2 separate regions of the Homo sapiens genome follow, and region 2 is linked to region 1. The links come from fine-mapping of genetic effects on gene expression. A gene starts in region 1. The other region holds a variant in brackets. All regions are shown on one strand. Distances are from middle to middle. Region 1 holds the start of SIGLEC12 (sialic acid binding Ig like lectin 12). Region 2 overlaps SIGLEC6 (sialic acid binding Ig like lectin 6).

Region 1 (4,000 bases):
TCTGTACCAATTTTCTGTATTAGTTCATTCTTCCATTGATATAAAGAAATACCTGTGACTGGGTAACTTATAAAGACAAGAGGAATAATCGGCTCGTGGTTCTGCAGGCTGTACAGGAAGCAGGATGTTGACATCTGCTTGGCTTCTGGGGAGTTCCTCAGGAAACTTACAATCATGGCAAAAAACAAAGGGGAAGCCAGCATGTCACATGGCCAGAGTAGCAGGATAGAGCAAATGGGGAGATGCTGCACACAGACAACAAGCAGATCTTGTTAGAACTCACCCACTCTCACAAGAACAGCTCCAAGAAGATGGTGCTAAGCCATTCATGAGAAATCCACCCCCGTGATCCAACCACCTCCCACTACAACCCACCTTCAATATTGAGGCCTATAATTCGGCATGAGATTTGGTGGGGACACAGATCCAAACCATATCAGGCTCTAATCCTATTAGGCTAATCCAAACCACCTATCTAAACACCATGCCTTCTAATACTATCACATGGGGGTTCAAAGGTCAACAAATGAATTTTGAGGAGAGACATGTAGCTGTAGCACTTGTCACTCTGGTCCTTAATATCTTCCTCTCCAAATTATGGAAGTGGGTCTAGAGGGCCCATCAGCTCCTCTGAGTCATATGTGGTTCAAACGTTCTTCCTTTGCAGATTCTCTGTGGCTTCCTCATGTCTCTCCTTCCCATTTTTCTGCTTTTCTTTGCCAACTGGGGACTGTGGGAAAGAGATGGGCCGTGGTCGAGCCCTTCTTCCCATTGAGATGCTGCAACTGTCCTTACGGGAAGAAAGTGACACGGCAAGGATGGGGGCCCAGGAGCAGATTGGTCTGCAGGATGAGATACAAGCTGCAAATGCAGGAATTAGTGGTGTCAGGGAGAGGAGCAGCTATGCATGCCCCAATCCTGCACATTTCCTTTTCAATTATCACAGCCAACTGACTCTACTCCAGGTTATGGGCAATTGGGGACAACATGGGGATGGGAAGATCCATGGAGCTGAGTAAAATAAAACAGATTGTGGTTTTTATGTAAAAATAGTCTTTAGAAAAACCTATGCAAAGCCATAGTATTGAAGGCAGTGCACTCAGATGATAAAACTACATAGAAAAGCAAGGAGACCATTATCATTAAAGTGAGGCTGGGGCATCTTCAGGAGGAACTGCATGTGGCCTATAGGAAGGGGAAACACAGGGCTGAATAAATGAATGCAATTTCTTTCTTCATCTCATGGGAGAAATTTGGCAATTATCTTGTGATGTTCTATTTCTTGAACAGTGATAATTTGGTGAAAATCACTGAGTCATTTTTTTAGGTGGCACTTTTATTTACTTGTATTACATTTCCCCAAAAATCATTGTTTCAAGAAAAGCTGACATGGGTCTAAGGAGGGCGAATCTTGCAGGATTTTCCCCACCTTCCTCCCAGTACATAGCATACAGTTTCAAAAACTCTTCTGCTGAATTCAGGTGCATTTCTTCTCCCATGAAATCCTGTCCATCATTGAGCGTGGACACGCCAGGGCTGGTGTCCTCGCTCCACGTCTCCTGTTCACCTGAAACCCTGGGAGCAGAGCCTGCAGGAACAAAGGGCCAGCAGACCCCTCATGCTCTGGAGTAAGGAGGACTTGTGAGAGAGCAGTGGTGAAGGATCCCATCCTGAACCCAGAGAGCCATGGCCGAGAGAGAAACGCCTGCCCCTTTAGAAATCTGTCCCTTCCCATCCAACATTCCTCCCTTCCAGACCTCACTGTACAACAGTCACAGCCTTAGCTTCTCAGGCCTCCTGTGAACTGGGCTCTTCTCTGTGTCTTTGGTGTGTATCAACACACGGAATCCTCACCTCCACGACCCCGTGTCTCTCTGCTCAGTCCTCCCGAGACTGATTCCCCAACATAGGAGAGAGCGACCACACCCTGCCTGGTACCCCCACTGAAGCTCCTGCCATGGAGAGCTCAGATATCAGGAGCCTCAGTGTCTCCCCACTACACAGTGACTCTTTGGGGACAGTGTCTAGCTCTGCTGTGTTGAACTCCACCTCACGGCCGCTGAGGGAGGAAGGAGAGGTTGCCTGCTCATCCCACCTGCACCCCCATCTCTTATATCCTAGTGTCACCTCTGACCTACAGAGAGACATCCACAGCCTGTACTTCATAGGTCTGGCCACATGGGACTCATTTTCACCTTATGGAAAATATCACCCAAGGGGAAGGGCACTGAGAGGGAGGCAGTGGGCGGGGTGGGCCCTGCATGGGGTTGGAATCTGGGTGAGTCTTTCATCCTCTCTGGCCTCAGGGTCCCCAGGAGTGGACGGGGTAGTGGACGGTGGATCTTCCAGGGGTGACCCGGCCCTGACAGTGTCTGTGTGTGAAGTTCCTCCTGTGAGGTCACCGTTCAGAACCCACCCCCAACTTCCTGTGCGGCTTCCTCGAAATCTTGAGTTCTCAGTTCCTGAGAGAAGAACCCTGAGGAACAGACTTACCTCAGCAACCCTGGCACCTCCAACCCGACACATGCTACTGCTGCTGCTACTGCTGCCACCCCTGCTCTGTGGGAGAGTGGGGGCTAAGGAACAGAAGGATTACCTGCTGACAATGCAGAAGTCCGTGACGGTGCAGGAGGGCCTGTGTGTCTCTGTGCTTTGCTCCTTCTCCTACCCCCAAAATGGCTGGACTGCCTCCGATCCAGTTCATGGCTACTGGTTCCGGGCAGGGGACCATGTAAGCCGGAACATTCCAGTGGCCACAAACAACCCAGCTCGAGCAGTGCAGGAGGAGACTCGGGACCGATTCCACCTCCTTGGGGACCCACAGAACAAGGATTGTACCCTGAGCATCAGAGACACCAGAGAGAGTGATGCAGGGACATACGTCTTTTGTGTAGAGAGAGGAAATATGAAATGGAATTATAAATATGACCAGCTCTCTGTGAATGTGACAGGTAAGGCACGGGCTCCAAGAGAGGCCAAAGGCAAATGTGATGAGGGCTTTAGGGCACGGCTGAGACGGGACACATGTCCTGGGAGGGGGCCGGGGGTGATGGACTCAGGGGAGGAGCTGGACCAGAGCCTGAGCTTCCCCAGGACCGCACCTTGGATGCCCCTCCTGATCCTGCAAGCCCCTCCCCTCACCAGCCCTGACCCACAGGCCTGACATCCTCATCCTGCCTCTGACGCTGGCACTGTGGCATGTGGGGCCTTATGACTCCTTGTTTTGGGGCCTGTCCTAGGCATGGCCGGGGTTTAGCACCATCCCAGGCCTCTCCCCACCAGATGCCAGAAGCACCCACCCCACCCATGCAGCGAGACAATTATCTCCACACATTGTCAAACGTCCTGGGGGGTTAAGTCCTCCCCAGTTGAGAGCCTTAGGTCTACACAACCCCGTGACTCTCTCAGGCCAGGCCAGGGAGGAAGCACTTCCTGGCGCAAACCAAGGGCAGCAGAGGCACCTGAGCCTGGACAGGGAGACTCAGCACACGGCCCCTCCATCTCTCATGCCCCGAGGTCCTCGGAGATCCACATTTAGATGCTCAAAAGACAGGAGGGACCTCCACGATGGTCCAGAGGCCGGGAGGGCAGGACCTACGTGTCTGGTGCAGGCCCTGGTGCTTCAGGGAAGCCCGGAGGTAGGAGGCGGGACACGGTCTCTTCTCCTCCCTGGGTGGGTCTCTAGGGTCTCTGAGCTTTAGGGTTTCCTTCACTCTGTGCAGAGGGAATGAGTTCCTATAGCATGTGGGTTTGCAGTTTCTCTTCCATGCAGGGCTGAGGTCTCCAGCTCCTCTCCAGCCCCCTGTGGGTCCCACAGCCCTGCCCCTCCTCTCCCTCCCCCTTCTCTGCTCACACAGGGAGCCCAGGAAGCCTCTGCCTCAGAGATGCTGCTGCCCCTGCTATGGGCAAATGAAGAGAGGGACAGTGGGGGCTGGGCTGACCCTCGTTTCTCCACAGCGTCCCAGGACCTACTGTCAAGATACAGGCTGGAGGTGCCAGA
Region 2 (4,521 bases), 23 kb before region 1:
TGTGAGCACCTGGACCTCTTAATTACTTCTGTACTCTCCATAGGGAGTGGGGAGATGGTTTTCTTTTGGGGAAAGAGGCTCCAAATAACCAGGCTGAAAGGCTTAGGGCTGTTCCCTCAGAGTGAAGACTAGAAGGAAGAAAGCAGCCCAGCCAGTGCAAAACACGGATGATGTGAACCCCGTCATGGTCTCAGGCTCCAGGGTGAGTGACAGAGACCTTAATTTCCATTCAGCATTATCCCTTTTGAATGCTGCCCTAAGTAAGGACCCTGAGGCATTTCTTCATTAACACCTGACATTCCCTGCGGTTCCACATGTGACATTTTAAATTTTTGACTCAGTAATAATTTAAAAAGTATTGATTTCAATAATTTAAAATAGTAACATTTGGAACTGAATCTAATAGTTCTGATGAAATACGTACTCCAGTTAATTTGCTGGGGGTATTTATGCTCCTCATATGTCAGATTATCATATTTCCTGGAATATTAGTCTTTTCTTATGGCATTGATTATTGAGAAAAAGAAATGAACAAAACTTAGTCTGTGTCAGGTGCATTAAGTACAAGGAATGTGGTAGACACAAGCCCTAGAGTAGACAGCCCAAATCAACCCAAAGTCATTACTGCTCATCACTATTACAATATTACAGGCATCTCTAGCTGCCTGTAATATTTTTTCTTTGGCATTGACCTTGGAGAACCTGATGACTGCGTGTCTTGGGAATGGTTGTCTTATATATTATCTTACCAAGGTTCTCTGAATTTCCTGAATCTGCATGCTGACCTCTCTAGAGAGGTTGGGGACATTTTTGTGGACAATATCCTCCAATACGTTGTTCAAGTTGCTTGCTCTCTCTCCTTCTCTTTCAGGGATGCCAATGAGTTGTAGATTTGGTCTCTTTACATAATCCCACAGTTTTTGGAGGTTTTGTTCATTTCTAAAATTCTTTGTTCTTTTGTCTGCCTGAGTTAATTTGAAGAACCAGTCTTTGGGCTCTGATATTCTTTCCTCAGCTTGGTTTATTCTGCTGTTAATACTTCTGATTGTGTTATGAAATTTTTATAGTGAGTTATTCAGCTCTATCAGCTCAGTTTGGTTCTTTCTTAAGGTGGCTATTTCATCTTTCATCTCTTCAATTGTTTTACTGGATTCCTTTGATTCCCTGGAATGGGTTTCTACTTTCTCCTGAATCTCAATAATCTTGATTGTCATCCAGATTCTGAATTTTTCGTCTGTTATTTTATCCATTTCATTCTGGTTAAGAACTTTTGCTGGGGAACTAGTGTGGTCATTATGAGGTAAGAAGACACTCTGGCTTTTAGATTTGCCAGAGTCCTTGCACTGGTTCTTTCTCATTTATGTGGGCTCATGTTCCCTTACTTGTGCTGTCATTTGAGTATAGTCAGTTGGCTTTGTTTCTGGACGTTTTCAGAAGGCCAACGCTTTGTGCACGATCTTTATTTGTTGCTAAATTCTTGTCCTTAGTTTCACAGTGGGGTATATTAGCAAAGTATTTTTGGTGTTGAAGTTTGGATGTGATCCAATAGGTGGTGCTTAAGCATAATGGCTGGCAGGTAGGCTCTTGTTCAGCCACATGAATCCTCTGTAGTTCCTCACATTTGCAGCCATGCTCCCTCCTAGTGCTCTGAGAGTGTGGGCTCCTCTCTCACTCAAGTGCTGGCTACAGATCTTGACTTGGCACTCAGGCTGCACACTACAGCCCCGTGGTGAGCCCAGGCATTTTGTTTCCTCCCCAGCTTGGAGCAGCAGGGGCAGGGACCTTGGAAGTGCCAGTGGTAGAGGGCTTTTTCCTTGTCTCTTGGGGCTTCATCCTAGAGGAATGCAGAGCTGCTGCCAATTGGAATAATTACCCTGGGTTGAGGCAGCTGTGCTGTGGGCCCAAGCAGGGGGACTTACCTGGTGAAGAGTAACGGTTGGAGGCTCACAGGGAAGAGAGACTGGGCTCCTCTCTGTAGTGCAGCTGTGGCATGCTGGAGGTTCCACCAAATAAATCAGGCTCTTTGTTCCTTCCCTAGCCTGAGGGCAGCAAGGGCAGCATGGCTGCAGCAGCAATGGCAGAGGGGCTGCCAGCTGCTCTGAGAGCTCCACCCCAGAAAGCCACAGAGCCACTGCCAATGGGAACGTTCATCTAGGGGTGGGGCCGCTGTGCTGCAGGCCCCAGCCAGGGGCCCTGCCTGGTGAAGAGCAGGGAGTAGGGG[T/G]CCCACAGGGAAGCGAGACTGGGCTCCTTTCTGTATGGTGCTTGTAGTGTGTTGGAGGTGCCAGCAAAGTGATCAAGGTCTTTATTCTTTTCCCAGCCTGAAGACATCAAGGGCAGTACCACTGCAGTGGCAATGGCAAAGAGCCTGTGGGTTGACCCTGGGATATCCTCCTCAGAGAAACACAGAACTGCCACCAACTCAGGTGGGGGCAGGGCAGCTGTGCTGGGGGCCCGGGTCAGGATGTCCTTCTCAGTCAGGAATAACAGGGGCAGGGACCCACACTGATACGGTCTGGCTGCTTTTCCATAAAGCAGTTCCGGTGTGTTGGAGGCCAGTGATAGTCCTTATGCTCTTTTCTCCTTCTCCAGCCTCGGGGGAGTAGGAGTGGGAGCTGTGGCGGCAGAAAAAATGGCAGACTTGTCTGTTACCTCTGGGAGCCCTGTCCCAGAGAAGTCGAGAGCTGCTACTGGCCCAAGTGCTCAGGCAGGGGTGAGGTGGCTATGCTGGGGTCCCAGGCCAGTGGGCTTTCTCTGGCGAGCTGTAGCAGAGGTGAGGTATGCAATCTGTCAGCTCCTCAGCACCATAAATGTGGTCCCTACCCTGAGAGCATGTGAGAGAACCTGGCCTCTCTTGTTGGTGAAGCTATGACACCTGGTGCCCAGCTGCTCATAGGTCCAAGGCCCTTGGGGCTCCACATGGGCCTGAGCAGTGGCCCTGCCCAGACTCCGCACAGCTCTCCATGTCAGTCTGGAGGCTTCAGGGGATCTCTCATGCCCAGGACTGCAAAGGTCCATGGCAGAAGTGTGGGTCCTTGGGGGCTGTCACTTGCTCACTGTTTCCCCATCGTGGGGAGCCTCCCTTGGCTCCATGCCAATCCTGGGGAGCTGCCTTGTCTCATTCTTCTCTGCTCTCCGGGTCATGTTGCTTCCTTGATGAATGTCAACGTGTCCTTCTGGATGGTCTAGTTGGCGAGCTAATGTTTATTTGCCACTCTATCTCCTCTCCATTAGAGTGGCGCACACTCCATAGTCGATTTTTTAAAAACTCTTATCTCAGTAACTGGTAGTATAAGTACATGAAAAATCAGTCTACCATGGTGAATGTTACATGTGCAATTGCAAAGAATGTGTTTTCTGAAGATACTGGATGTAGTATTTTATAAATGTCAATCAGGTCAAGTTATTTTACACTAGTGTTCAATCCTTCTATATCCTTAGTGATTCTCTGTCTGCTTATTTTTACAATTTATTTTGTTAAATCATGCTCTGTGATTGGTTGCATATGCACTTAGGATTTTTATATCTTGTAATGAATTGACTTGTTTATCATTATGAAATGTCTTTATTTCTGGTAATATTTCTTTTCCTAAAATACACTGTCTGATTTAATATTACCACTCTAGTGTTCTTAATATTAGTGCTTGTTTGTTATGCATTTTCCCTCCTCTTACTTTTAACACATGTGTGCCTTCATATGTATTGTGTCTGTCTTACAGATATCACATTTATTCTACCTATTTTATCAAGTCTGCCAATATCTTCCTTTTAATTGGAGTGTTTAGACCATTTATATTTAATGTGATTATTGATTTGGCTCAGTTTAATTCTACCAGATTGCTCTGCTTTATATTTATATTTGTCCTTTTATATTTATCTCCCTTTTTTGCCTTTTTGATAGTTTTAAAATATTACTACTTTTTTTTTTTGAGATGGAGTCTCACTCTGTCACCCAGGCTGGAGTGCAGTGGCACGATCTCAGCTCACGGCAAGCTCCGCTTCCTGGGTTCACGCCATTCTCCTGCCTCAGCCTCCCGAGTGGCTGGGATTACAGGTGCCCGCCACCGCGCCCAGCTAATTTTTTTTTGTACTTTTAGTACAGACGGGCTTTCACCGTGTTAGCCAGGATGGTCTCCATCTCCTGACCTCGTGATCCACCTGCCTCAGCCGCCCAAAGTGCTGGGATTACGGGCGTGAGCCACTGTGCCCAGCGGACCCTTACTTTTAATCTGTAACCCTTCTTGAGTCCTAACGGAAGGTTTGAGGTGTTTACTGGGCCTCTCCTTATCAGACCTGGAACATCAAATTTGGTTTACCCAGTTCCATCAGACTGCTGAGAGGAGAGTTACTACTTTTATCCTCTAGCAGGGTTGTCCAATCATCTGGCTTCCCTAGGGCACATTTCTTTTCCTTGTTGGTTTTCAGCAATAGGATTATGACATGCCTAGGTGTGGTTTTCTTTGTTTTTATCTTTCTTGGTATTTGCAGATATTGTTGGATATATGACTTGGTATTGTGAAAACA

Evidence for each region. PIP is the estimated chance that this variant, and not a neighbour inherited with it, causes the effect.
Region 2: its variant is the best candidate, but not a certain one, in a credible set for the expression of SIGLEC12 in kidney cortex (GTEx, PIP 0.60).

The regions. Positions count from the first base shown.
Region 1 is chr19:51,500,258-51,504,257 of GRCh38, reverse strand. SIGLEC12 (sialic acid binding Ig like lectin 12) reads left to right here and starts at 2,458. Exons shown (of 8, transcript NM_053003.4): 1 at 2,458-2,951; 2 at 3,958-4,000. The coding sequence starts at 2,525.
Region 2 is chr19:51,523,428-51,527,948 of GRCh38, reverse strand. It overlaps SIGLEC6 (sialic acid binding Ig like lectin 6), which reads left to right. Exons shown (of 8, transcript NM_001245.7): 7 at 121-202. Among named protein-coding and RNA genes, the nearest start is that of SIGLEC6, 6.0 kb to the left of the region's middle. The variant T/G (reference allele first, on the strand shown) is at 2,222.